4 linked regions of the Homo sapiens genome follow. The protein of the gene in region 1 interacts with the protein of each later gene in a pairwise test. Each region holds a gene or a part of one and is shown in the gene's direction. Other genes may lie near its edges.

Region 1 (3,500 bases):
GTCATCTTGCCATGAAAGCTTCTTCAATTCGTTACCTAGAAGTGCAAATGTATTGAAAGTTTTACTCATTAAATAAGATTATTTTGAAGCTAAAGGCCAAAGATCCTACTTACTTTGGAGAACAGTGTTGAATCCAGCCCAATCTCTCCTTTCAGCCCAGGCATGTTTTAGTACTGGGATGTTTTCTATCTTTTTAAGTGTCCTGTGCTCTGTTTACACTATATTAATCTGCTCATTTAAATTGGTGTTTTGTTTTAATGTTTGGCCAGAGTTTATGCACTGCCACTTTGGAGAGAATCTAAGATTCATTCATTCATTCATTCATTCACTCACTCAACAAAGCATTTGTTGACAGCCTGTTGGCATGGGAGACCCTTGCAATTGGCACCAAGAATACAAGAATGAGAAAGGGACTCAACTTGCACCCAAATGCTCACAGTCCAGTTAGGTGAGAAAAATAAGCAGGTGAATATATTAAATAAAATATGGTATATGCACGAATAGAGCCCTGCCCAGGATATCTAACCAAGATTGACCCTAAGGATGTTCAAGGAAGTTTTTATAAAGAATTTGACCTTAGTTGAAGCCTGAGGCCCCGGTGAAGGGTTACCTCCTCCTTTATCATTTTCTTTATTGAATATACCATCAGAGGAAAATTATCGTTTTAAAATTTTGTTGATGTTGTTAATCTGTCCCCTCTGTCTTCCCACTAAAACAGCATTTCTCAACCTTTTTTAAAATCAGTGATATCGTAAGGAGCCTTTTTAAACAACTTTTTTTGTTTGCTTGTTTTGTTTTTTATTTTGTATAGATAGAGGATCTCGCTATGTTGCCCAGGTTGGTCTCAAACTCCCGGAGTCAAGATATCCTCCTTCAGCCTCCTAAAGTGCTGGGATTACACACATGAGCCACAGCACCTGGCCTGTAGACAACTTTTTTTCTAAACACTACTCTCCATGATGTTTTTCTGTAGCAAAATAGGCATAATATAAAATGTACCATCTTAACCATTTTTAAGTGTACAGTTTACTGGCATTAAGTACCTTCGCAGTGCTCTACAACCATCACCATTATTCATTTTTCTGTACTGAAATTTGCTCAACTGAAATTCTTTACCCCTTAAAGGATAACTTTTCGTACCCTTTCCTCCCAGGTTGCCCCCTGGACAACCACCATTATACTGTCTCTGAATATACCTGTACAAGGTACTTCATACAAGTGGAATGATACAATATTTGTCCTTTTGTGTCTGGCTTATTTCACTTAGCATAATGTCTTCAAGATTCATCCATGTTGTAGCATGTGCCAGAGTTTCATTCCTTTTTATGCCTCAATACCTACATGAAATTTAATACCACATTTTAAATCTCTTTGTATACTCTGGGCCTTTGGAGGCTCACAAACCATTGTAATACATAAGATTTTTCCACTTCCCAAGAACCAGTTTCACCCTTTTGCTGCAATATCCCCCTGTAGAAAATGCCTGTGTTAAAACCTAAGCTCCGTGACCCTCTCTATCTTGTTGTCCACTGTGTCCCCCAGCGTAACACCTAGCACATTTTAAGTACTCAACAATCATTTATTGAATACTTCTCTAGCCCTTCCCCAACCACTCCTTCCTTCTTATCTTAGCCATTATTATTAAAATTTGCTCTTAGAGTAATTACGTATGTATTTGTTACTTAGTGCTTCATGCTCCCCAGCCAGGCATCTCACCATGCTCATTTCCTTTGGCTGCACATGCCATTCTCAGTGACCCTGTGTTTGCTGGCTTTCTTCACAGAAGTAAAAGATTATGAGCCTCCATTTGGTTCCAAGGTGCGGGAGCACCCCTGTGTCGAAAGCATGAAGGACAACGTGTTGAGAGATCGAGGGCGACCAGAAATTCCCAGCTTCTGGCTCAACCACCAGGTAAGGAGTGAGTGTTTACAAAGGTCAGTAAGATTCAACCAAGTTGCCTCTTAGGTGGCAGAGAATTCTGGAATATTGAGCTTAAATCTGAGGGAAGGTCCCATTGTGTTCTATGGCCCTGTTAAATTTTGTTTATAAAGCAAATTTCAATACAGTGGATAACCCAATTATTATAGGCTCCAACCAGCTGATATGTACTCTGAGAGTTCACAAATAGCCATTCGGAGGACATTTGCCACATTTTCCAAGCCCCCTTGGTCCTGGGTTAAAACATTTTGTTTGCAGCCTCTGCTACTTACTCCTGGGCCTTCACGTCAGGAGTTTATATTTGATTCCCTCTGGATTCCAAATGTTTTCTTCTGGGAATCTTCAGCTCCATAAGGAAATACTTAGCAGATGCAAAACAAGCAGGGTTTGTCAGGCAGCTGTAGTGAGAAGTGACTGTGGCATGCAGAAGGCTGTGTACAGGTGTTTGCAGGCTGTGCTCACAGACTTGGGAGAGGCCTGAGTGAGCACGCGTGGGAAAGAGGAGACCGACTCCTCACTCTGGAATTAAGGAAAGCAAAGAAGAGGAGAATGCCCTGGAAGGAACGAGAAATCTGTCTGTTGGGAACATCCTAATGGCCTCTTATTTTTCCTTGTTAAGAAATGCTAGCTAAGGCTGTCCATAGCAGGGCAGTCATTCTGGACTCATAAAGAGGCTGATCCAAATTGTTTGTTTGGGGGCACTTTGATGAGGGCAATGGTCAGAGAAAAAAGAAAACGATAGGTTGTGAGTGAGTCAGAACCAGCTATATGTCTGACACACCCAGGAAGGAGCCCTTAGTGAAGAATGAGAGAGAACAGTGTGGCCCTATCTCACTGAGAAGACTGTTCTTTCTACTGACTAAAACCTTTTATTGCCTCTTTTGGATGAATTCCCTCAACCATGAAGGCCGAGGCTAAGTTGTTGGTTTCCCTAAGGGCAAGGCAAATTCAGATAAGAAACAGAAACAACAAATCAGGCACAATCGGGAAGACAAATGGAGCAGGAAGTCTGGTCTGTGCCAGTCCTGGCCCAGAGCCACTTCAGCAGACAGACCTTAATAAAGTCCGAGGAGGTTGGCGAGGGGGAACCAGGCTGTGGTGGGTCACAGGCTTCTCTGGAGTTTTGAGCAAATCCTCTTTGACACTAAAACTGTAAGAATATTTTGCATAAATTCTGAAATCAGAATGTGCTGGAGTGTTATGTTTCTTTCAAACTCTGTTGCCTCCTCTGCTGTATAGTTCTCGTAATGATGCCATTATTCATGATGATAAAATTCTGAAAAGAATTTGCATAATACATTTTTTCTCATAATGAGATTTGTTGCCCTATTGATTTCAAGTTAATGCTTAATATTTAATTTAATTTACTGCCTGTAATTACAGTGCCAGAATAAAATAAATGTTACTTGTGTACCAACAATAGCACTCTACTCTTAACAGGGCCATCTGTCAATACTGTCAATTAGGTGAATTATGCAATTAATTTAACATCATGAACTCATCGGGTGGGGAGGGAGAGATAGGCTCCTAGGTGTGTTTGGAAAGTTGTTGGTATTAGAAAA
Region 2 (3,500 bases), on another chromosome or scaffold:
AAAGTGTTTAGACCAAGAGGTCCCAGAAAAACTCTTGGTCTCTTGGGTCTCAAATTTCATAATTAACCATTTCAGTTCAGGCATAAATTTATTCCTGATGGAGCTTGGTAATTTAGGAGATTTCTGGCAATTGATTCATGTGCTAATTTTCTAGGAATGAGATAAATACAGAGGGGACAGAACAGCTTTTTGTTGGTTTACATAGCGGTGTAAGACTTCTTTGGAGTCTTAATGTAAATGATAAGCCATTTCCCTCATAGAGTCTTATAGAACTGGGCTCTTTTTTTTTTTTTTTAATTTGACTTGTACCAGGATTATAAAACATATAGAAAATGATTCCTTCCGCTGTGCATAGAGTTTATCATCGTCTTTCTTCTGCTTGTCACATCCTTGCTTTTTAGACCATTTATCACCCATCACTCTGACTTTTCAGACCCTCATAATCCACATGATACTTATCCTTTTGATTAAAACAACTTAATGGCCTTTTCACGAATAATTAATCTGCTGTCTTTACTTTCAGCTCCAGGCTTTTAACTTTAATGTTGAGTTATCCAGCCTGTGTTGCCTTTCAAAGTTTCACTCCCCTTAGCCTTTTCCCCTCAAAGGTTTAATACTTCTTTAGAAACTTCAATAGTTGCTATACAAAGGTTTTAAAAAATGCTTCTGAGTTACTCTCACATCCCTTCTGCTGTGTATGAAGTGTATAACTGTGCAGAGATCAGTGGGATGAAATGAAAATAATTCAGATTTGCATATTCTGTCATTCTGGAAAATGTGGAGGCTTGCACTTTCAAGAAAAGTTAAAACTCCATTGCTTTTGAAGAAACAGTTGTGTATTATTTTGTGGTTATGTGTTTCTAACTCTAGATGTTTTTCTAACAGTGACAATTTATACCAAATGACATCCCAGCTTGAATGCATGACCTGGAATCAGATGAACTTAGGAGCCACCTTAAAGGGGTAAGGTTTTCTCTATTCCATTGCCTTTCCACAGTAACTTATACCTGTTTGAACCATTTCAAAGGTGCTTAGAACTTATGAAGAAAGTACAGTTTTAGAAGAAAGGGCAAAGCTCTCTGTGACATTAGAACGCTTTCCTCCTTCCCCTAGTTGGTGAGTTGTGTTCAGTATTAAATTTTCAAAAACATAAATGTGGGTTGTTTCTATCTGGAACAAGGAATATTGAGGACACTTATTATGGTCTTGTTGAATGTTTTATAATTCTTCAAAGGCTATTCAACCTCATTTAATAATTGTGTTTTACTATGATATCACAGTTGTTAACCATTCCACTATCTTATCAAGAAGTGCTTTGGGTGTGCAAAGTCCGGGATCCAAATTTGTATTTGTGTGATGCTGATCTGGGCAATTCACAGTCAGATACGCCCATACCTGATTGCACCAACAGGGTTTTTCTTTCCATACTTGATAATACAACCATAATAGGGAGAATACAGCCAGGAAACATCAGAAGGAGCTACTCTTTGCACCTAAAAATGAAAAAATAAAAAAAAGAAGGCAGGTGGGACTTGCTTTCACCATTGAAAGAGCTCACTTTTCATTTTCTACCAAGTGTGAAGAGATGGGCAGTAGCATAGAACACTCATGAAGTGCCTGCAGCGTGTCAGGTGTCCTTCCAGGTTACCTCATCTTATCTTCCCAACACTCTCATGAGAGCTAAGTACTGCTTGGTTTACAGATAAGTAAACCAAGCTCAGAGGGTTAAGTTACTTCCCAGGTTCACATCCTACTAAGTGCTAGAGCTGGGATGCCAAGTCCAGATCTGATTCCAAAGCCCAAGCTCTTTGCAGCCTCCGGTGGTGCCTTCCACCCCACCATTGGCCCCAGTGGGACTGGGGACTTAGTTCAGCACTCTTGATAGCTAGCTTGATGTCTCTGTGTATTGAGGGGCTTTTCACTGGATTCTGGGATCTGGGGGGCTTGCCAGATCCATGCATGCTCCATTCCCCACTCCCCACCTCTTCTTCTTTTCTAGAGTTGCTGCTGGGAGCTCCAGCTCAGTGAAATGGACAGAAGGGCAGAGCAAGTGAGTGGACAATGCGGAGATGGCAAAGCAAATGGCGTAGGCCTTGCTGACTGGCACCTGGGGCAATGCAGGAGTTAGGACTGACGTGGGTAATCAGGGTAGCATTTGGTGGATGGGAAGAATCTCTCTCCCCCGCCCCCACCTCTTCTTATTCATCATACACATGCTGGGGACAAAATGGAGGGAGTAGCATTTCTCATCAACATGCCCCTGGAAAACAATGTAAAAAATTATGCAGCATCCTGTTCATTTCTTTGTGAATACTTCACAAAATACTAAATACTAAATTTGTGGCATTACAACCATAATGCCACATGTTCCTGTTAGATCAGTCAAAGCTTTCAGTCTTAACTTGCTTCTTCTTTATTTACCTTTAAATCTCTCAGGGAGAACTTACCCTAAGTCTGAGGCCAGGCTTTGAAAAGACTTGTTTTTTGTTGTTTTTCAAAGTTTGTTTTTATTCCCAAACATTCGCACCTTCCCCAGCCCTGTACCCTGCACCTTGGGGAATTTCTGTAGCTGTTTCTTTTTCTTCTCTCTGCTTTAACTCCACAACCAGCCGCCCTCTTTTCTTCTTTATTGTGTGGGCCCAGTCCTGTTATTTGGTTCATCCTTCAGTAATCAACAGAGTTGTATTTCATCTTCCAAGACTTACTGTTAGGTTCTTCACCTCACCCCCGCCCCCAAATTTTTCAGCAGTTTTATCCAGATCTCCTCTTCCTCTCTCTGGACCACAAAGAAAAGGCTTTCTGTTGTTTTAAATTATTTCTCTCCTGTCTTCCATCTGGGGGACTGCTGACAGTTTTAGCATTCTGTCTTTCTACCCATTCTCTTTTCTTTTTGAGACGGAGTTTAGCTCTTGTCGCCCAGGCTGGAGTGCAATGGTGCCATCTCGCTCACCGCAACCTCCACCTCCCGGGTTCAAGCGATTCTCCTGCCTCAGCCTCCCCAGTAGCTGGGATTACAGGCATGTGCCACCACGCCCGGCTAATTTTGTATTTTTAGTAGAGATGGGGTTTCTCCATGTTGGTCAGTCTGGTGTCAAACTCCCGACCTCAGGTGATCCGCCCACCTTGATCTCCCGAAGTGCTGGGATTACAGGCGTGAGCCACCGTGCCTGGCCTTTCTACCTGTTCTTAACTCGTCTTAAGTTCCTTGGCTTCTTGGTCCCACCCTTTCTTTCTGGCTCCCTTCCTTTTCTCCTTTCTCCTCTCCTCAGAACTTGATAACCTTCCCCAAGCTAAATAGCAAGGATAGACAGAACATGATTGTGAAGTGAGCAGTACATTTCAGTTTCAAAAACTTCTTCATGCTGTAATACAGGGGCTTGTTTGTTCAGTTACAAAAATTACAGATAAGGAATTTGGCATGTATTTGCAGCTGGATATTTCCATGGTTAAGATAATTTCGATACTTTTTAAGGTCTTTAGACATGTACTGTTAGTCACTT
Region 3 (3,500 bases), on another chromosome or scaffold:
AAAGGCGTGTTCATCCATTTTGTATTGCTATAAAGAAATACCTGAGCCTGGGTCATTTATAAGAAAAGAGGTTTATTTGGCTCATGGCTTCGTAGGCTACACTAGGATCATGGCACCGGCCTCAGGCAGCTTCCAATCATAGGGCAAGGGGAGGCGGCACCACACATTGAGAGAGGGAGGGAGGTGCTGGGCTCTTAAACACCCAGCTCTTACCTAAACTCAGAGGGAGAACTCATTACTACGGGGAAGAAGCCAAGCCACTCACGCAAGGTCTGCCCCCGTGACCCAGACGCCTCCCACTGAGCTCCACCTCTAGTGCTGGAACACTGGGAATCACGTTTCTTTTTTTTTGAAATGGAGTCTCACTCTGTGGCCCAGGCTGGAGTGCAGTGGCGTGATCTCAGCTCACTGCAACCTCCACCTCCTGGGTTCAAGTGATTCTCCTGTCTCAGCCTCCCAAGTACTTGGAATTATAGGCGCGTGCCACTATACCCGGCTAAAGATCCATTTCAGCACATGATTTGGAGCAGAGGAAACATCCAAAGTGTATCAGAAGGCAAGGTGCTTGGTCCTTGGCCCTTTTTGGCCCGCCACCAGCTGTGGAGTAAATTTTCCCCTGCACGCTGGCCTGGATGTGGGGTTTTTGTTGAATAGGAAGCTGCCCTTAGAGCTTCTTCCAAGAGGTGCTCCCAGCTGTCAACAGCTCAGAGCCCTTGGACTATTTTTCTAAAAGGCCAGGAGGGCTGCTGGGAAAACAGAAATGCGGACTCACCGCATTATTGCTTCAGGCAAGTAATTCCTGGGGTCTCAATGTGGGGGAGACTGTACATTTAGGACTAGGTGTTTTGTGGGTTTTAGTTGTTCTCATTGAATCTGGAGAACTGTCTGTCACCAAGGAATCCCCTCTGTAATAGCTGATGGTGGTCTCCAGCTGTATCTCACATACAAGAGCTCACTCTCCAAGACTGGCCCTGATGAGAAAGTTCTTCCATGCTGAAGGGCCGGGCGCGGTGGCTCACACCTGTAATCCCAGCACTTTGGGAGGCTGATGCGGGTGGATCACGAGATCAGGAGATCGAGACCATCCTGGCTAACACGGTGAAACCCCATCTCTACTAAAAATACAAAAAATTGGCCATGTGCGGTGGTGGGCACCTGTAGTCCCAGCTACTCGGGAGGCTGAGCCAGGAGAATGGTGTGAACCTGGGAGGTGGAGCTTGCAGTGAGCCGAGATCGCGCCACTGCACTCCAGCCTGGGCAAAAGAGCGAGACTCCGTCTCAAAAAAAAAAAAAAAGAGTTCTTCCATGCTGAATTGCAATCAGCCTCACAGACACTGCCACACCCAGTGCCAGGTCTGATCCTGCCTCACTGTGACAGGCAGATCTTAGGGTTTAAGAGGAAGATGGTGTTCCTTCTGTGTTCCCCACGTGACATGGAGTCCAGTCCCTCAGGTCTGGTGCCTGCTGCAGACACTCAGAATATTGTGTTTCAGGCAGCCTGACAGTGGGTCCAGGGCCATGTCATGACACGCATGTTTATTTTGTCAGCAAGATGGCCGTTTGGACAGCTTGTCTCCTCAGAGGCTCTTGTTGATAGATAATTTTTTTTTTTTTTTTTTTTTTACACATGGTCTTGCTCTGTTGCCTAGGCTGGAGTGCAGTGGCACAGTCATAACTCACTGCAGCCTCAAACTTCTGGGTTTAAGCAGTCCTCCTACCTCAGCCTCTTAAGTACCTGGGACTAGAAGCATATGCCACCAGACCTGGCTAATTAAAAAAAAAAAAAAACAATTTTTTTTTTTGAGACAGAGTCTTGCTCTGTCACCCAGGCTGGAGTGCAGTGGCACAATCTTGGCTCACTGCAACCTCTGCCTCCCAGGTTCAAGCGATTCTCCTGCCTCAGCCTTCTGAGTAGCTGGGACTACAGGCGCCTGCCACCACACCTGGCTAATTTTTTTTTTTTAATTTTTAGTAGAGACCGGGTTTCATCATGTTGGCCAGGCTAGTCTCGAACTCCTGACCTCAGATGATCCACCCGCCTTGGCCTCCCAAAGTGCTGGGATTGCAGGTGTGAGCCACCATGCCCAGCCTGAATCCGTTCTCTTTGGGCAGAATTGTCGAGCCAGCCACACAGGCACTGGCAGCTGTGACCTGGTCCCAACGCTCCATCTGGTTTAGAAGCTGCTGTGAGCAGGTCACCCCTCCGGTGGTCTCAGTGGCAGGTCCAGTGTCCTTTCATACAACTCCCTTGCTGCAGGACTGCAACTGGCCCCACCCTCCCTGGGCATCTGTGGTCTGATTGGTTGAGGTTAACCTTTCTCCCACTTGGTACTTAGAGCAAGTCACAGAAAACATCCAAGGCATGTTGTACTAGAAAGCGGGGGCAACCTCAAGCACAAGATGCCATGACCTTGCCAAGACTCGCTGAAGGACCATTTTCTCTCTTGTTCCATTCCAGACTGAACCCGGTGCCTGGCTCCTACCCCACACAGAGCTGCCACCCTCACCTGTCCCCAAGCCACCCTGTGTCCCAGACGCAGCACGCCAGTGGTCAGAAGCTGGCCTCCTGGCCCTCCTGCACCCCCGGGCACATGCCCACCTTGCCTCCGTACCAGCCTGCCTCCGGCCTGTGCTATGTGCAGAACCACTTTGGTCCAAACCCCACCTCCTCCAGTGTCTACCCAGCTTCTGCGGGCACCTCCCTGGGCATCCAGCCCCCCACGCCTGTGAACAGCCCTGGCACGGTGTATTCTGGGGCCTTGGGCACACCAGGGGCTGCAGGCTCCAAGGAGTCCTCCAGGGTCCCCATGCCCTGAGAGAATTTCTAGGGAAGTCATCTCACTTGGCCTTCTGAAGGTCCTCCCTAAGAGTCTCCTGACAAAAGTTACTTATTGAACACCTCTATGTGCCAGGCTCTGTGTTGGGTACTTTGATCAATGCCCCTGTTTCAGTCTCATCTGTACTCACGGCAGCCCTGTGGAGTACGGTGTACTGGCCCAGCTTACAGATGCAGAAAGCGAGACGTTCTGCCATCAGATAAAGTCACGTGGCTCTTTAGTAACACGGACAAGGCTCCTCGCCAAGGAACTCGTGGCAGAAGAGGGCAGCAGTTGGCAGTAGCTGCCGATGTCTGTCCCCAGCTCCACCATTCCTCCCTGTGGCTGTGCCGTGCTCGTGGTTTCAGTGTCCGTGTGTCCATGTGTCTGCCCTTCAGGAGCTCGCAGCTGGTGTGCTTGGCGGTCCCAGGCCTGTGTAGTGTCTCTCCCCTGCTGCGGGCGCCCCCACCCCGATTCCTCTCCCCAGAAGCGGTGGGATGGGCCCCCATGAACTGCAGCAGCATGCTGAGGTGTCCATGTTGTCTGCCTTTGTATAAAGAAACAGCCTCTGACCTGCCGTGCTGGCGTGTGCTTCCTTTGTGGTCTGGCTGGGGAAGAGGGAGTGCGCTGAGATCTGGGCAGTGGCAATGTGTGGTGTGGCGGCAGAGAGGAGAGATGCACCAG
Region 4 (2,375 bases), on another chromosome or scaffold:
AGTCACACAGTTACCAAAAAGCAGAGACAGGGTTTGAACTCAGGCATTCTGATGCCAGAGCCCAGGCTCTCGATATTGCCTTTCATTTTCCTCCAGGAAAGGATTTACATGAGATGGCAGGTGGCTGGGGAAGCAGTGAGTACACACTCACGTTGTGAAGGCAGGGAGACTTGTGGGGGACTTGCTGGGAAGCTGAAGAGCTCAGGAGGATGAGGAGAGGGAGTGGACGGTTTAAAAAAGACAGTGTGAGAACAAGAGCCCTGAGCCAGAGGAGAAAATGACAGCCCTCTCCTCCCTCTGATTTCTGAGAGGTGTTCCTGCCCCCAGGAGTGAGGACACTGTCTTTCTCCTGTGTCAGGCTATTTCCCCATGGAAAGGAACTATATCTCCCTGATGGCCCTCACGGATGGCCAGGCCCCACCTTCCCTTTGTGGGCTTGGCACTGCCTTCCTTTCTCCACAGATCCTTTAGTTGCTTTAGTTGAGCTGCTCCTCTAGCAGCAGCTCCAGCCCAGGCAGCTCCTTGGGGCCAAGCCCTTTTCCAAGGGTCAGAAGCTGTGGGCAGGGCCAGGCTGAGGCCTCTCCTGATCCTGTCCCCCTGTCCCTGGACCTCACTCCCACAGGCCATGAAATTATTCACTGCGATCCGGGATGCCCTCATCACTCGCCTCAGAAACCTTCCCTGGATGAATGAGGAGACCCAGAACATGGCCCAGGACAAGGTCAGGCCAGGCGTCCTGGCTGGTGTGGGAGCCTGTGCAGGGAATGGAGTATTGGAACAAGCGAGATGGGGATTGGAAGCAAATGCCAAAGGCCCCCCCAGGCACATGCTAAGTAGGGAAGCCACTGGGCTGTATACTCACACTGGCAACAATGTGAGAGGCTGGGACAGGGCAACGAGTGGGAGAAATTTCCTCTGGTAGACTCGGAGAGTATTCCTAGCCTCTTCTGTGTCTCTCTCCAGGTTGCTCAACTGCAGGTGGAGATGGGGGCTTCAGAATGGGCCCTGAAGCCAGAGCTGGCCCGACAAGAATACAACGATGTGGGTCCCTGTGTTTTCCAGCTCCTTTTCAGTCCTTGACTTCTCGTCACTTCTCTGACCCTCCTAAGTCTTTGTTGGACAATCAGTTTTCCCTGGGTGACTTAGCTCTGTCCTTACTCTGGTGCTGGCTGGGGTTGATGGGGAAATATCCACACTGTACGTCTTGCTGGCAGAAGAACAGAATCTTTTCAGGTCCCAACGCATGTGCCAACACACATGCATGCATCCTGTGACTTGTCTGGGCGTGTTCATCTGTGTGCTGATATGTGTAAAGCCTGGGTGTGCTGTGTAGTGATGCCATTGGGCTGCTCTCTCCTAATCCCTGGATGCCTGCCTGTCAGGGCTTGCCTGTTTGGGGTCAAATGGTCCCATTGGTGTTTGTCAGCGTGCATCTATAGAAGTCTCTGTGTGCCCAAGTCACCTCCTGCCTCTTCCCCAGATACAGCTTGGATCGAGCTTCCTGCAGTCTGTCCTGAGCTGTGTCCGGTCCCTCCGAGCTAGAATTGTCCAGAGCTTCTTGCAGCCTCACCCCCAACACAGGTATGACAGCAGGGGAGACACAGGCACTCCATCCCAGAGAGACCCATCCATGATTCACAGGAAAGGAAGCCAGGGCTCAGGGCAGGCAGCATGAACAGTAATGGTAGTTGGGAGGGACTGTGTAGGTCTCAGGGTGGCAGGGCAATACGTGGTGGGGGCTGGAGTTCACATGTCCTCTTCCCACAGGTGGAAGGTGTCCCCTTGGGACGTCAATGCTTACTATTCGGTATCTGACCATGTGGTAGTCTTTCCAGCTGGACTCCTCCAACCCCCATTCTTCCACCCTGGCTATCCCAGGTATGGGTCACTCTGTAAGGGTAGGTAGGGAGTTTCCCAAGAGGGGCCGACAGGTGTTATGATGGATGGGACTTACGGTTGGAGAATTGGGGTCACAAATGCTGAGAGATTCTGGGGGTCAAATAAGCCCTTGTCTCCCTAGAGCCGTGAACTTTGGCGCTGCTGGCAGCATCATGGCCCACGAGCTGTTGCACATCTTCTACCAGCTCTGTGGGTAACAGGGGCCACTGGGAGGTGGGATAATAGGGAACCTAAGGGAAGACCACAAGGGAGGCCTGGAGGGGAAAGGGAGGTTATTTGAGGGTTTGAGGTGGGGCAGTCCTGGGAACTTTGCCATGCTCCTGGGAGCTGATTCAGTCTGTGGTACCACCCACATCCTCACCTAGGCAGCACCAACCCTATGTTCTCTTGCTGTATGTTCTCTTGTCCCATTTTCAACAGTACTGCCTGGGGGCTGCCTCGCCTGTGACAACCATGCCCTCCAGGAAGCTCACCTG

Evidence for each region.
Region 2: the proteins of TGFBR2 (region 1) and WT1 interact in binary tests that used the Homo sapiens proteins (3 or more experiments, as listed by UniProt).
Region 3: the proteins of TGFBR2 (region 1) and RHBDD2 interact in binary tests that used the Homo sapiens proteins (3 or more experiments, as listed by UniProt).
Region 4: the proteins of TGFBR2 (region 1) and KEL interact in binary tests that used the Homo sapiens proteins (3 or more experiments, as listed by UniProt).

The regions. Positions count from the first base shown.
Region 1 is NC_000003.12:30,686,601-30,690,100, forward strand, and holds part of TGFBR2 (TGF-beta receptor type-2 isoform B precursor), read left to right. Parts: intron 1-1,783; coding exon 1,784-1,911; intron 1,912-3,500. UniProt on the Homo sapiens protein: Transmembrane serine/threonine kinase forming with the TGF-beta type I serine/threonine kinase receptor, TGFBR1, the non-promiscuous receptor for the TGF-beta cytokines TGFB1, TGFB2 and TGFB3.
Region 2 is NC_000011.10:32,415,040-32,418,539, reverse strand, and holds part of WT1 (Wilms tumor protein), read left to right. Parts: intron 1-885; coding exon 886-963; exon of another isoform or gene 964-1,116; intron 1,117-1,999; coding exon 2,000-2,050; intron 2,051-3,500. UniProt on the Homo sapiens protein: Transcription factor that plays an important role in cellular development and cell survival. Recognizes and binds to the DNA sequence 5'-GCG(T/G)GGGCG-3'. Regulates the expression of numerous target genes, including EPO.
Region 3 is NC_000007.14:75,885,534-75,889,033, forward strand, and holds the end of RHBDD2 (rhomboid domain-containing protein 2), read left to right. Parts: intron 1-2,458; coding exon 2,459-2,816; 3' UTR 2,817-3,393; downstream 3,394-3,500.
Region 4 is NC_000007.14:142,942,989-142,945,363, reverse strand, and holds part of KEL (kell blood group glycoprotein), read left to right. Parts: intron 1-622; coding exon 623-721; intron 722-963; coding exon 964-1,041; intron 1,042-1,480; coding exon 1,481-1,581; intron 1,582-1,767; coding exon 1,768-1,878; intron 1,879-2,020; coding exon 2,021-2,088; intron 2,089-2,319; coding exon 2,320-2,375. UniProt on the Homo sapiens protein: Zinc endopeptidase with endothelin-3-converting enzyme activity. Cleaves EDN1, EDN2 and EDN3, with a marked preference for EDN3.